Linked DNA regions of Homo sapiens. The protein of the gene in region 3 purifies or fractionates together with the protein of the main gene of each other region. This does not show direct contact. Each region holds a gene or a part of one and is shown on either strand. Other genes may lie near its edges. The genes, in order: PKM, EXOSC9 and MPG.

Region 1 (3,649 bases), on a different chromosome or scaffold from region 3:
CGACCATTTCCTTCAAGTTCTGCAGGCTCCCACTGTATCAGAAAAGCCTAGGTTAAGACTTGGCCAGCCTTCTCCACCCTCACTGAAACCCAGCCAGATGTCCAACCACAGAATCTTGGTAGCACAGAACATGTTAGAAAGATCTTTCCTAGGTCTTTAAGTTGCTCCTACAAAGACCTGCTAAGGAAAACATCTTCTAAATTTTGCCTATAGCATAAAACCTAAACCATATGGATTCTTTTTGCAACAAATTATTTTTTATTATAAACTGGTAATTTATAATTTGGGTTACAAAGTTATGTAATCCAATACATACAGTTTGGATACAATGTGGAATAATTAAATCAGGTTAGTTAACATATCCATGACTTCAAATACTTAACATTTTTGTGGTGAGAACATTTGAAATTTACTCTTAGCGATGTTTTTTTCTTTTTTCTTCCTTTTTTTTTTGAGGCAGAGTTTCGTTCTTGTTGCCAAGGCTGGAGTGCAATGGTCAGATCTCAGCTCACTGCAACCTCCGCCTCCCAGGTTCAAGCAATTCTCCTGCCTCAGCCTCCCAAGTAGCTGGGATTATAGGTACCCGCCACCACCCCCGGCTAATTTTTTTGTATTTTTAGTAGAGATGGGATTTCACCATGTTGGCCAGGCTGGTCTCGAACTCCTGACCTCAGGTGATCCACCTGCCTCAGCCTCCCGAAGTGCTGGATTACAGGCATGTGCCACTGCGCCCGGACAATTTTTTTTTCTTAAGACAGGATCTCGCTCTGTTGCCTAGACTGGAGTGCAGTGGTGTGATCATGGCTCACTGCAACTTCAATCTCCTGGACTCAAGTGATCTTTGTCTCAGCCTCCCATGTAGCCAGAACTACAGGTGCATGCCACCATGCCCAGCTAATTTTTTTTTTTTTTTTTTCACTTTTTGGAGAGACAGGGTCTAAGTTGCTCAGGCTGGTCTCAAATTTCGAGGCTCAGGCAATCCTCCCACGTTGGCCTCCCAAAGTGCTGGGAGCCACCATACCTCGCCATCTTAGCAATTTTGAAATGTCTAATACTCTCTTATTAACTGTATTTGCCATCCTATGCACATACTAATTCTTTACTGCAACTTCCTATGACCTGAGTCCTTTCATAAGAATCTGTGTAGTATCCCATGTAGCACCTAGGTTTGTTAGGACATTTAGTTACTCTTTTCAGGAGAGAAAGGTCACTGCCCATGAAGCCCTTTTTTGGGGGAAGGGGCACACCCACTCACCAATGGTACAGATGATGCCAGTGTTCCGGGCTGTGATGGGTGGTGAATCAATGTCCAGGCGGCACATGTGCTCCAGGAATGTGTCAGCCATGGCTGCGTGCAGCTGCTGGGTCTGAATGAAGGCAGTCCCGGCTTCACTATGGGGCTTCGACATGGCTGCTGAGGTCCTGGGTCGAGACAAATTGAAAGAGAGTGGTAAGACTGAGAAGTGGTTAATATACCATTTAGCACAGAAGGCTGTCTCCTGCTTACACATTAACTCAATAAGCACGCTTTGTACACAAGCCACAGGGAAGCCAGACATGATCTGGTTATGTGGGTGCTCCTCATGTTAGAAAAAGGGTTCACCAGATTGTGAACAATGGAAAGGACCTTACTGAACAAGTTAAAACCTCCCACCCACTCCACATAGTCCCAAGCACCCACAGTAAGCAGGTCTCTCTTACACTGGGCTGACTGACATCTACCTAGACAGCTTTCTCACCACCCTATCTATAAATAACATCATTTAACATGCACTGAAGGAGCTTCCAATGAAGGAAGTTGTAACCAATCTTCCAGTGATACAAACAACTGACTCCTAGCTTAGTGCCTTGATAAGCCTAGATCTCTGCATGTCAAGCTGTCACAAAGCTACAAATAGCTGCTTTGTCGTGGGGCACCCATATTGCCTCTTTACAATCCTCACCCAAACCCAAAGTCATTCCCCTGAATGCAAAAGCTTCCATCCCAGGAGTCTAAACCTAAAACCACATCTACTGTTGGCCAGAAGGATGTCAGGACACGCAAAGCAATTTGCAATTTGCAAAGCAAGGATAACATAAGGGCACTGGTATAATTCTGAAATTATCACAACTACATTAACAGGATAGTTGCAAACATAGAGAAATTAAAGTTGCTGGTCAAATCTTTTCCCCAAATGATTTTTGATACACATCCTGATTTCTTTTCTAAGCCTGACAAGTATACCACCACTCTGTAACACAGACCATCAGTTCCAGGTAATTAACTAGCCCAGGTCACAACCCTGACAATGGCCCCAACCTTTGCTTTCTTCATTAATGACTTACAACTAAACTCACTCAGCCTGTTAGTTAGCTGATTAGAGACAAAAACTCAGGAGAAGCTTCCAGGCAGTGTTTGAATAACTATCAGGTAAGGATGTGAACCAGACCAGGCAGTGTTTGAAGAACTATCAGGTAAGGATGTGAACCAGAAGCTTGCTACACGTCTCATCAGAAAGCTGTTTCCTTGAGTTCTCAGACCAAGGGCTACTCTTTCTAAAACGCTTGAGCCTAAATGCTTCGGCCAAGCAAGGCTCAGGAACAAGCTCCTCTTTAGCCCTTCCCCACCTCATCCTAAATCTCAAAGTTCCAAATCAAGGCATCTCACACATATGACCCTTACTCCTTTACCCTGTTCCATCTCTGACTTTGTGGGCTCTCTGGGTGGCTCGAGTAGAGTATACATCTAAATCCATCTCTGCCATCTCCAAAGAAGGCCCGCTGAGGTCCAAGGAGCTCTGAAGGCAGTAGTGAACAGTCTGTTGGCTATGGAAAACTGATGGCCACAAGTCCTCAACCACAGATTCTAAAACTTTTAAAATGGGGAAATAAGATACCGGCTAACGGTTCAACATGGCAAATGCACTCTTCATTTCGATGTGTATTTCCTAAGCCCCTAATATCTACTACGTACCAAAATGAAAAAATCAATCCTCCCTTCCAGGACCTATATGGTTTTGTATCTCCTAGCACCTAGTATGTGGAAGCATTCCAGTGTTTGTTAAATGACCTTTCAGTCTCTCTGAATGCCTCTTTGTCAGAATCAAAGTTATGCCTCTGCTCCCCCTTCCCTAAATCTGAGGAACTTCTGCATTACTGACAGGAAAGCCTGGGGCCCCTGGTCCCTTTCCCTACACTCATGGTTGAGGGAGGGCTCGCATACCTTCAGAGCTCCCAGCTGGGCTTAGGGAAGTCTGGCTGTTAAGGGAACATTACTGAGAGATGGCACATCAGGCCAACTGGAACACAAAGGCTTTGCTGTGGCCTCCAATGGGCCTACAATCTAGGGACTGTATTGTGAACAAAATAAGATCTGAATAAGTGGGTTGGAGTAACTAATTCCACTCTTTTTAAAAACCATCAGCTGGCTCTTCTTAGACCTGAGATATGAGGGTCTTCCTGTAAAGACCTGGCTGGGGCCACTGAATATCAGGTCATACCTTTGGTTCTCTGGGGTTGGGCTTCCGGTGACATAATGCTCCCCTTTTGGCTCAGGGTGGCTCCTTGGCCTCACTAGCAAAGACCGCTCAGAGCTGAATACGGTGTGCCCTGGAGAGCTGCACAAGGATTAAGGAAAAAGCTGAGTGTAACTAAAGCTCTTTGGGGTAAT
Region 2 (3,649 bases), on a different chromosome or scaffold from region 3:
GTAATTCTCACCCCACTGTCCCAAATTAGAGCCTAGCATATAATTCTCTTAACCACTGTACAGCCTTAGGAAACATAAAACACTACCATGCCATAGTAAATTCCTAAGTTTATAAGTATCCCATGAAAAGAAAAATGTTGGGAAGTATCTTCATCAAAGTATAAGAGTTTTGTTACTTCTACTGAGAAAGTTCTTTGCCAACTAATGCCCTTACAAAGAAAGAAAGGAAATACAAGGTGCTTTACTATTAAGGGAAGTGTTTGTTTAATATTAACATGACATACTTGAGTAGAGCAATAAAATTCCTAGCTGCATTTGTAATTTTGGCCCATAATAAGGCGAGGCTTACCCTTGCTGGAAAAAGGCAAAACTGACACAAATGGGCATGTGGTGGATACTTAATGGTACAGGATCACGCTCTTCAGGTGTATACTGTTTCAAAAGAAAATGTTTAATAATTATAGTCACTAAGTTATGAACATCCAAAAAAATCATCTTGCACATCAAATACTAAAAAATGAAGTTCCTTTATTCTTTTGAGTACCTAAATAACTTCTTTTAATTAATTACCAGTTTGATTTTGCCACTCACGTTCCTCAAACTGTACAACTTTTTCAAAAAGCTTTTTCAAAAATTTACTGACACATAATTTACATCCCATAAAATCCACTTTTTTTTTTGGAGATGAAGTTTCACTCTTGTTGCCCAGGCTGGAGTGCAATGGCAAGATGTCAGCTCCCGGCAACCTCCGCCTCCTGGGCTCATGCGATTCTCCTATGTCAGCCTCCCAAGTAGGTGGGATTACAGGCATGTGCCACCACGCCCGGCTAATTTTGTATTTTTAGTAGACGGGGTTTCTCCATGTTGGTCAGGCTGGTCTCGAACTCCCAACCTGAGGTGATCCACCTGCCTTGGCCTCCCAAAGTGCTGGAATTACAGGTGTGAGCCACCACGCCCAGCCAAAATCCACTCATTTTAAGTATATGATTCAATTTTTAGTAAATGTATAGTTATGGATACATTTACGGACCCATCACCACAATCTAGTTTTTTAACATTTCCATTACTCCCCAAAATTCCTTTGAATCTGTCTGTAGTCCGTAGGAGTCTGGTGTACTCCCACCCTAGCCCCAAGGAATCACTGATCTATCTTATTTCTGTCTCTATAAATCTGACTTTCTGAGCATTCTATATAAATGGAAAAAAAAAAAGTTGTAATGTTTTGTGCCTGGCTTCTTTCAACTTAGCATGTTTCATGCACCTTGCAGCATTTATCAGTAGTTCAGTTCTTTTCATTACTGAACAGCATTCCATTATTTGTATATATGACATTTTATCTATTCACCAGCTGGACATTTGGATTGTTTCCAGTTTCTGGCTAACAAATGATGCTATGAACACTTGCATTGAAGTCTCTGAACGTAGTAAGCTCTTATTCCTCCCGTAGATTCTTAGGCATGGAATTGCTAGAATTTTTTTTTTTTTTTCTAATTTTAAGCCATTGCAGTTTGTTTTAACATTATAAGGTCGGCTGGGGGCAGTGGCTCACGTCTGTAATCCCAGCACTTTGGAAGGCCGATGTGGACGAGGTTGGGAGTTCAAGACCAGCCTGACCAACATGGAGAAACCCTGTCTCTACTAAAAATACAAAATTAGCCAGGCGTGGTTGCACATGCCTGCAATCCCAGCTACTTGGGAGGCTGAGGCAGGAGAATCGCTTGAATCCGGGAGGCGGAGGCTGCAGTGAGCCGAGATCACGCCATTGTACTCTAGCCTAGGCAACAACAGTGAAACTTTGTCTCAAAAGAAAAAAAAAAAATTACAAGGTCAAACCTGCTGAAAGATGTACATATAAGAGAGTGTTTTCAGCTGGGCATGGTGGCTCATGCCTGTAATCCCAACAGTTTGGGAGGCCAAGGTGGGAGGATCACTTGAGCCCAGGAGTTCGAGACCAGCCTGGGCAATTTGGTGAAACCATATCTCTACAAAAAATACAAAAATTAGTCAAGTGGGTGGCACATACCTGTAGTCCCCACTACTCAGGAGACTGAGGTGGGAGGATTGCTTAAGTCCAGGAGGCAGAGGTTACAGTGAGCCGAGATCACGCCACTGCACCCCAGCCTGGACAACGGAGTGAGATCCTGTCTCAAAAAAAAAAAAAAGAAAAAAAAAAAAGAATATTTTCTTCTACTGTTATTTTTCTGAATATAGAATGCTGTCTACACTTAAAACTTAAGCTACCAAACTTTTCCAACATGGCTGTACCATTTTACATTCCCACTAGCAATAACACCACAGTATTCTTTAATTGATTTTTCAAGTGTAGTAATCGCTTTCTACTTTTTTTCACTTCCTTATATAAACTCCCTCCTCTAAAAGAATATTACCTCTACTGTTAATAAACCTTTGTCCCTATTTCTCACTTTTTAATGGTTCTGCTTCAGTCTACTGCCCAAAATCAAAATTATGAATCATTGCTTAGAAAATCTGGGCATCTGATGTGTCCTTTTGCAACTTCAGGATTCAAACTACAACTACAGTGCACTTTCACTATTCTAGCATGTAATTTATATAAATCAAAACTGACATACTCAGAACAAAAGATAAAGACAACGTAGGTCAATGGTTTTCAAAATGTGCTCCCTGGACCAGCAACATCAGTATTACCTAAGAACTCAAAGTTAGAAGTACAAAATCTTAAGTCCTAGCCCTGTTTTACTTTGGGAGTAGTCTGGCTATACGTTTTAACAAGCCCTCCAGGTATTTCTGATGGACTTTCGTCATCTCTTTGCCTAATGAACAAAAGTCCTGGAGACAAATATGAACCTGCTGATTCCTCAGTGCTTTTCAGCTATTGCATGCCTCTTGCAGGGTAAGCATCTCACTGTGCTGAGATTCATGTATTTTTCACACATATGGCCCCTAAACATAAGTCAACCACTTCATCTAATGTTCAATCCAAAATAGTCATCTAATTCTATTCTGGAAAACCAGGCTAGGGTATGTTCTTACTGACAAATGTTTCAACAGAGGAACGGTTAAGAGATTTCCAGGGCAATTTTGACCATATGCAGTTTCAGTCTTACAAACAAATTTTTAGAAACGACCCAATTGCCATCTACAACATAACTTCACTAAAAACAAGTTGCCTGCACATTTAAGACCCTCCTCATTCATTCATATCAAGGATCCTGGTTCACATAGGAGCTTACCAGTGTTACTTCATCTCCTTGGACAGAGACATCAGGTCTTCGGAAATGACATAAGGCCACGATTGCAGCAATGCTGGCAGCATCAATAATATTTCCATCATGATTTAATAAATGTAGGTCTACACGTATTTGCCAAACCTGATAGTGAATTTAAAATAAAAATAAATCCTAACTGATTACAACCAGTGGCTATTTATCAGGAAAAGTAACATTGTGTACAAATTATTTTTTCTTGCTGTTAAAACACGCAGTTACTCCTTGTACTTTGTCAACAAAAAATATATTTTAGAAAATTTAAGCCAAACATCTGAAATACTATGTGGGTCGTTTAACAACAGAACACATACTTTAAATAAACAGAACCACTCTAACATTTAATACTACGATTTTCCTAACCTCAAATCTAATTACATTTTTATCATGTCTGTTAAAAACCA
Region 3 (3,749 bases):
GATTATAACCTAAAAGTAGGCTCATTAAAGGACAAAGGGAAGGCCTTGGAGCCTCTGGAGAACCAGAAAGGCAGGCCTGGGGCTTTGGCATCGAGGACCACCGCCACCACCTCGCTCCCAACAGATCCAGCCAAGATGCCACGGCTGTGTGAGCATCTGCTCGTGGGGACAGGCTGCACCGTAGGCCCCACCAGGATGGGACCTGGGCAGTCCCTGCTTCTTACTCCAAGTCTGATTGGCAGAGCCCAGATCCTTGACCTACATTAAGCTGCAGGGGCCCTGGGAAGCCAGCACTGCACTGTGAGCCACTACAGCGGGAAGGGGCAGCCCGACACTGGCCACAGCCACAGTTCCCACGTGTGGAAAAACTGAGGTGGATTGCCGGTGAGGAAGGCTAACGGTGCAAGTGCTCCTGCCCTAGATGCCCAGAGCCGGGGGCAGACAGTGGCACCCCTGCTCCACCCTGGGCAAGCAGCACTGACAATCTCTACATTCTTCCCAGATGACCTCAGGCAACTGAGATGAAGCTAAGCAGGGACCAGTGTGAGCAAAGCCGCTAAATGCATGAGGACAAGGAGGACTAACTGAGGGCCAATCCAGCAGGCAGCGGACAGGGGTTCAGGGACAACTGCAGTGACAGGCACTTCAGGAGGGCCCTCGCTGCTATGTTCACATTACCTGTCCCAGAAATGCCCGGGCCAGGGGGACTGCCGGCTGGTCGAAGAACTCCAACCCCAGTCGGGTAAGGTGGCCCTTTGGGCTTGAGAAATAGATGCTGCGGTATGGGCCCGGAGTGGTGGGCGGTCCCAAGCAGCGCTCCCTGGGGCAAGGTGCCTGGGCTGCATCGGACGAGCTGTGTGGCTGCTCTGCAGGTGCCTGGGCTGCGTCGGACGAGCTGTGTGGCTGCCCTGCTCTAGCTGGTCGCTGCTTCTTTTGCCCCATCCGTCGGCAAAACTGTAATGGGAAAAAAAATAAATAAGCATCCGAATAGGAGACAGCTGTGTGGTAAGGTCAGGCTCAGGAAGTGCAAGGACTGGATCTGACCACCTGCTTTGGTTTCTTCATCTGCAAAGCGGGGGTGACCATCCTGTGGGTTGTTATGAGGCACAAACACCCTGACACACTCGAGGCCTCAGGAAATGATCACGTCTGACGATGGACGGCTGCTGCTGGGGGCAGGGTGGCTGCTCTGCCCCACATATGTGCGAGCTGCACGGCATGGGGGCCCAGGCTGCATGACCTGGGGAGCAGATGGGGGCCTGAGCCTGGGACAGCAGGGCTGGTGCCCTCCGATTCCCACTCATCATGCAGGTCCCAAGCAAACGTCTGAGCTGGTTTCTGGAGCCCTGCCCTTTCATCCAACCCTTGCCAGAATTCAAAACACAGGATCTTAGCAGGGCCAAGGTCGGACACACAGGGAGGGGTGAGCACCGGGGTGACCACCGCGTGCTCAGGGTCCCTAACTGTCCTCTGCTTCATGGCCCAGGCTGGATAACGAGCAAGTGGGGCAAAGGCAAGGTCTCCTGAGGGACTAGGAGGGTCTGCTGAGACCGAGCAGGCCGCCAGCCTCCCACCTCTGGCCTCCCCATGGGTAGGGGGAACCTAACCACACATCCTCGGCTGTCCTGGGGCAAAGGAGAAGGGAAGATGAAGGTGGCGGGTGAGCGCCGGCCTGGCAGCACCCGGAGGGCTGGTCTTTAGCAGCACCTAAGTCCTCCTGGCATGGGAGAGATGCATTATTTTTAACGGGAGTGCTGACGTTAATGTAGAACGGAGACTGCCAGTCGGCCTGGAACGGACGCTGACGTGACCGTCTCCGCAGCTCGGCCCGCGCTGCCAGCGCGCCGTGGGTTCAGCCCCCGGGCGCTGCGGCCACTGCTCTCGGCCCGAGCTTGGCCCTTGGCCTATGCTCTGGCTCTGCCCCGAACCCTCGGGGCGGTGGGCGCTACGCCCGTCCCCGGCACTCCCGCTCCCGCGGCCGCGCTCGCTGCTGCGCCTGGGGGTGGGCGCGTCTGTTCCGCGGGGCGGCCGAGGCGCGCGCTCACCTGGGCCCCGCTGCGCGCGGGCATCCGGCGGCTCGGGCCGGGGCTTCGTGGGACTCGGACCCCGGCGCGGAGCCCAGCAGCCGCCGACCACGGAAGCACCCCTAGGACCGGGGCGGAGCGGCGCCTGCGCAGAAGGGGACGGAAGCCGGGAGAAGGGGGGCAGTGAGCGCCGGGAACTGGCTGCGCCCCCGGGGCGGGGCGGGCCACGTGGAGGTGGATCCTCTTCCCAGCGCCCACCGCCAGGTCCGGACCGATTCCCGGGCCCGATGCGGTGCCTGCGAGGCGAGAGCGGGGAAGGGGCACCTGGGGGTGGGGCGAGCCCCGCACTGTGCCCCGGCGCCCCTCCCAATGAGCTGTCCGCCCCCGCCTGCGCCCTGGTCGCCTGGCGGCCCCAGAGCCCACTCCACCAGCCGGTGGTCAGACCACCGAGAGGACGGGCCCGTCGTGAACCTGAGTGGATCCTCGAGGGGCCCGGGCGGAGTGGTCGTGCTTTGGGGGAGGGGGCGGGCCGCAGACGTGTTTTCCGGTGGGGTGCCAGCGGAGTGAGCGCCTGGGAGGCCGCCCCAGCCCTGGTCCGGAGTGGGCCGGGGAGTCCTTATCCAGGAAGTGGACGCCAGGCTTGTGCGGAGGCCCCCGCCCCTGGCCGGGGTTGTCACAGGCTGGTCGGGGGAAGGAAGGAGGGAGCGGCGCGGATTCTGCCTCTGCAGCAGAGCCCCCATCCCTCTTTCCGCCCAGGGATGCTGAAGGGAGCTCGCCCACGTTCTGGGTTGGGCCTGCTGGAGCGCAGGCAGCCTCCTCTAGAGGCCGAGGCCAGACCAGGGCTGAACACGGCCCGGCAGTGCGCAGCCGTCCTACGCTTCTGAGGCCTCCCCGACGGCCCAGCGCCTGTAAGCTCTCACAACCTCTCAAGTCAGATCCATGCCCCTAGGGAGGGGCAGGGACGGTGCTTGGCCCAGTGGACGGAAGGGCCTAGGGGACGGGCCCTGAGGGAGCTGGGCACACTGCTGGCTCCCACGGCCCATGGCAGCCCCAGCACCCAGCAGAGCCATCCCCCGCTTCTGGCCACTTGAAGGTTTATCTGGGTCTGCAGGGCCCCTCCACTGTGGCAGGCACAATCCCACCCCACAACCCACCTCTGCCGCACAAAAACCCTCGAGGGGCTTTTCCTGAGCTTTGACTTCTGTGACCCTGGTCCTGGAAAGGAGCACCTGAAAAGGCCTTGAAGAGCAACTGGGCACCTGGCCGCGTCAGGTGGGAGACGCTGGGCAGGACAGACGCACAGGCCATGTGTCTGGAGCCCTCAGATGAGTGTGACACCTGGTCCTACAGAAAGGCTAACAGGGCAGGACCTGGTCTCCAACTGCCTCTCCTCCTCTGACCAGCCGTCCCACCCCCATGGGCCCCAGCCAGGACTTCCTGGGGAGGGAGGGGCCATCAGCCGGCTGGAAGCCACCAGCTGTTTGTAGCACTGTGTGCCGCTTCCCGGGGTGGGGGCATAATGTGTCATCAATCCGTGTTTATAAAGCAGCCCTGGATGTGATTCCACACCCTCCCTGCTTATCTGCAGCCATGCCTCCCAAACAATGAGTCTCTCCTTCCTGTGGGAACAGCCCCCCATCCCCCCGAGTGCTCCCCCTCAGTCTAGTAGGGAAACTGAGGCCCCAGTTGAGCCTTTGTCCTCTTGATGGGCAGGGAGAGGATGGG

What was found.
Region 1: the proteins of MPG (region 3) and PKM purify together in Homo sapiens (affinity purification with mass spectrometry, with the first as the bait; one study listed by BioGRID). This does not show direct contact.
Region 2: the proteins of MPG (region 3) and EXOSC9 purify together in Homo sapiens (affinity purification with mass spectrometry, with the first as the bait; one study listed by BioGRID). This does not show direct contact.

What each region holds. Positions count from the first base shown.
Region 1 is NC_000015.10:72,217,689-72,221,337, forward strand, and holds part of PKM (pyruvate kinase PKM), read right to left. Parts: intron 3,597-3,649; coding exon of another isoform or gene 3,480-3,596; intron 1,423-3,479; coding exon of another isoform or gene 1,410-1,422; coding exon 1,256-1,409; intron 1-1,255. UniProt on the Homo sapiens protein: Catalyzes the final rate-limiting step of glycolysis by mediating the transfer of a phosphoryl group from phosphoenolpyruvate (PEP) to ADP, generating ATP.
Region 2 is NC_000004.12:121,804,323-121,807,971, reverse strand, and holds part of EXOSC9 (exosome complex component RRP45), read right to left. Parts: intron 3,351-3,649; coding exon 3,213-3,350; intron 433-3,212; coding exon 350-432; intron 1-349. UniProt on the Homo sapiens protein: Non-catalytic component of the RNA exosome complex which has 3'->5' exoribonuclease activity and participates in a multitude of cellular RNA processing and degradation events.
Region 3 is NC_000016.10:76,630-80,378, reverse strand, and holds the start of MPG (DNA-3-methyladenine glycosylase), read right to left. Parts: upstream 2,155-3,749; 5' UTR 2,070-2,154; coding exon 2,046-2,069; intron 1,241-2,045; exon of another isoform or gene 1,087-1,240; coding exon of another isoform or gene 1,048-1,086; intron 955-1,047; coding exon 679-954; intron 1-678. UniProt on the Homo sapiens protein: Hydrolysis of the deoxyribose N-glycosidic bond to excise 3-methyladenine, and 7-methylguanine from the damaged DNA polymer formed by alkylation lesions.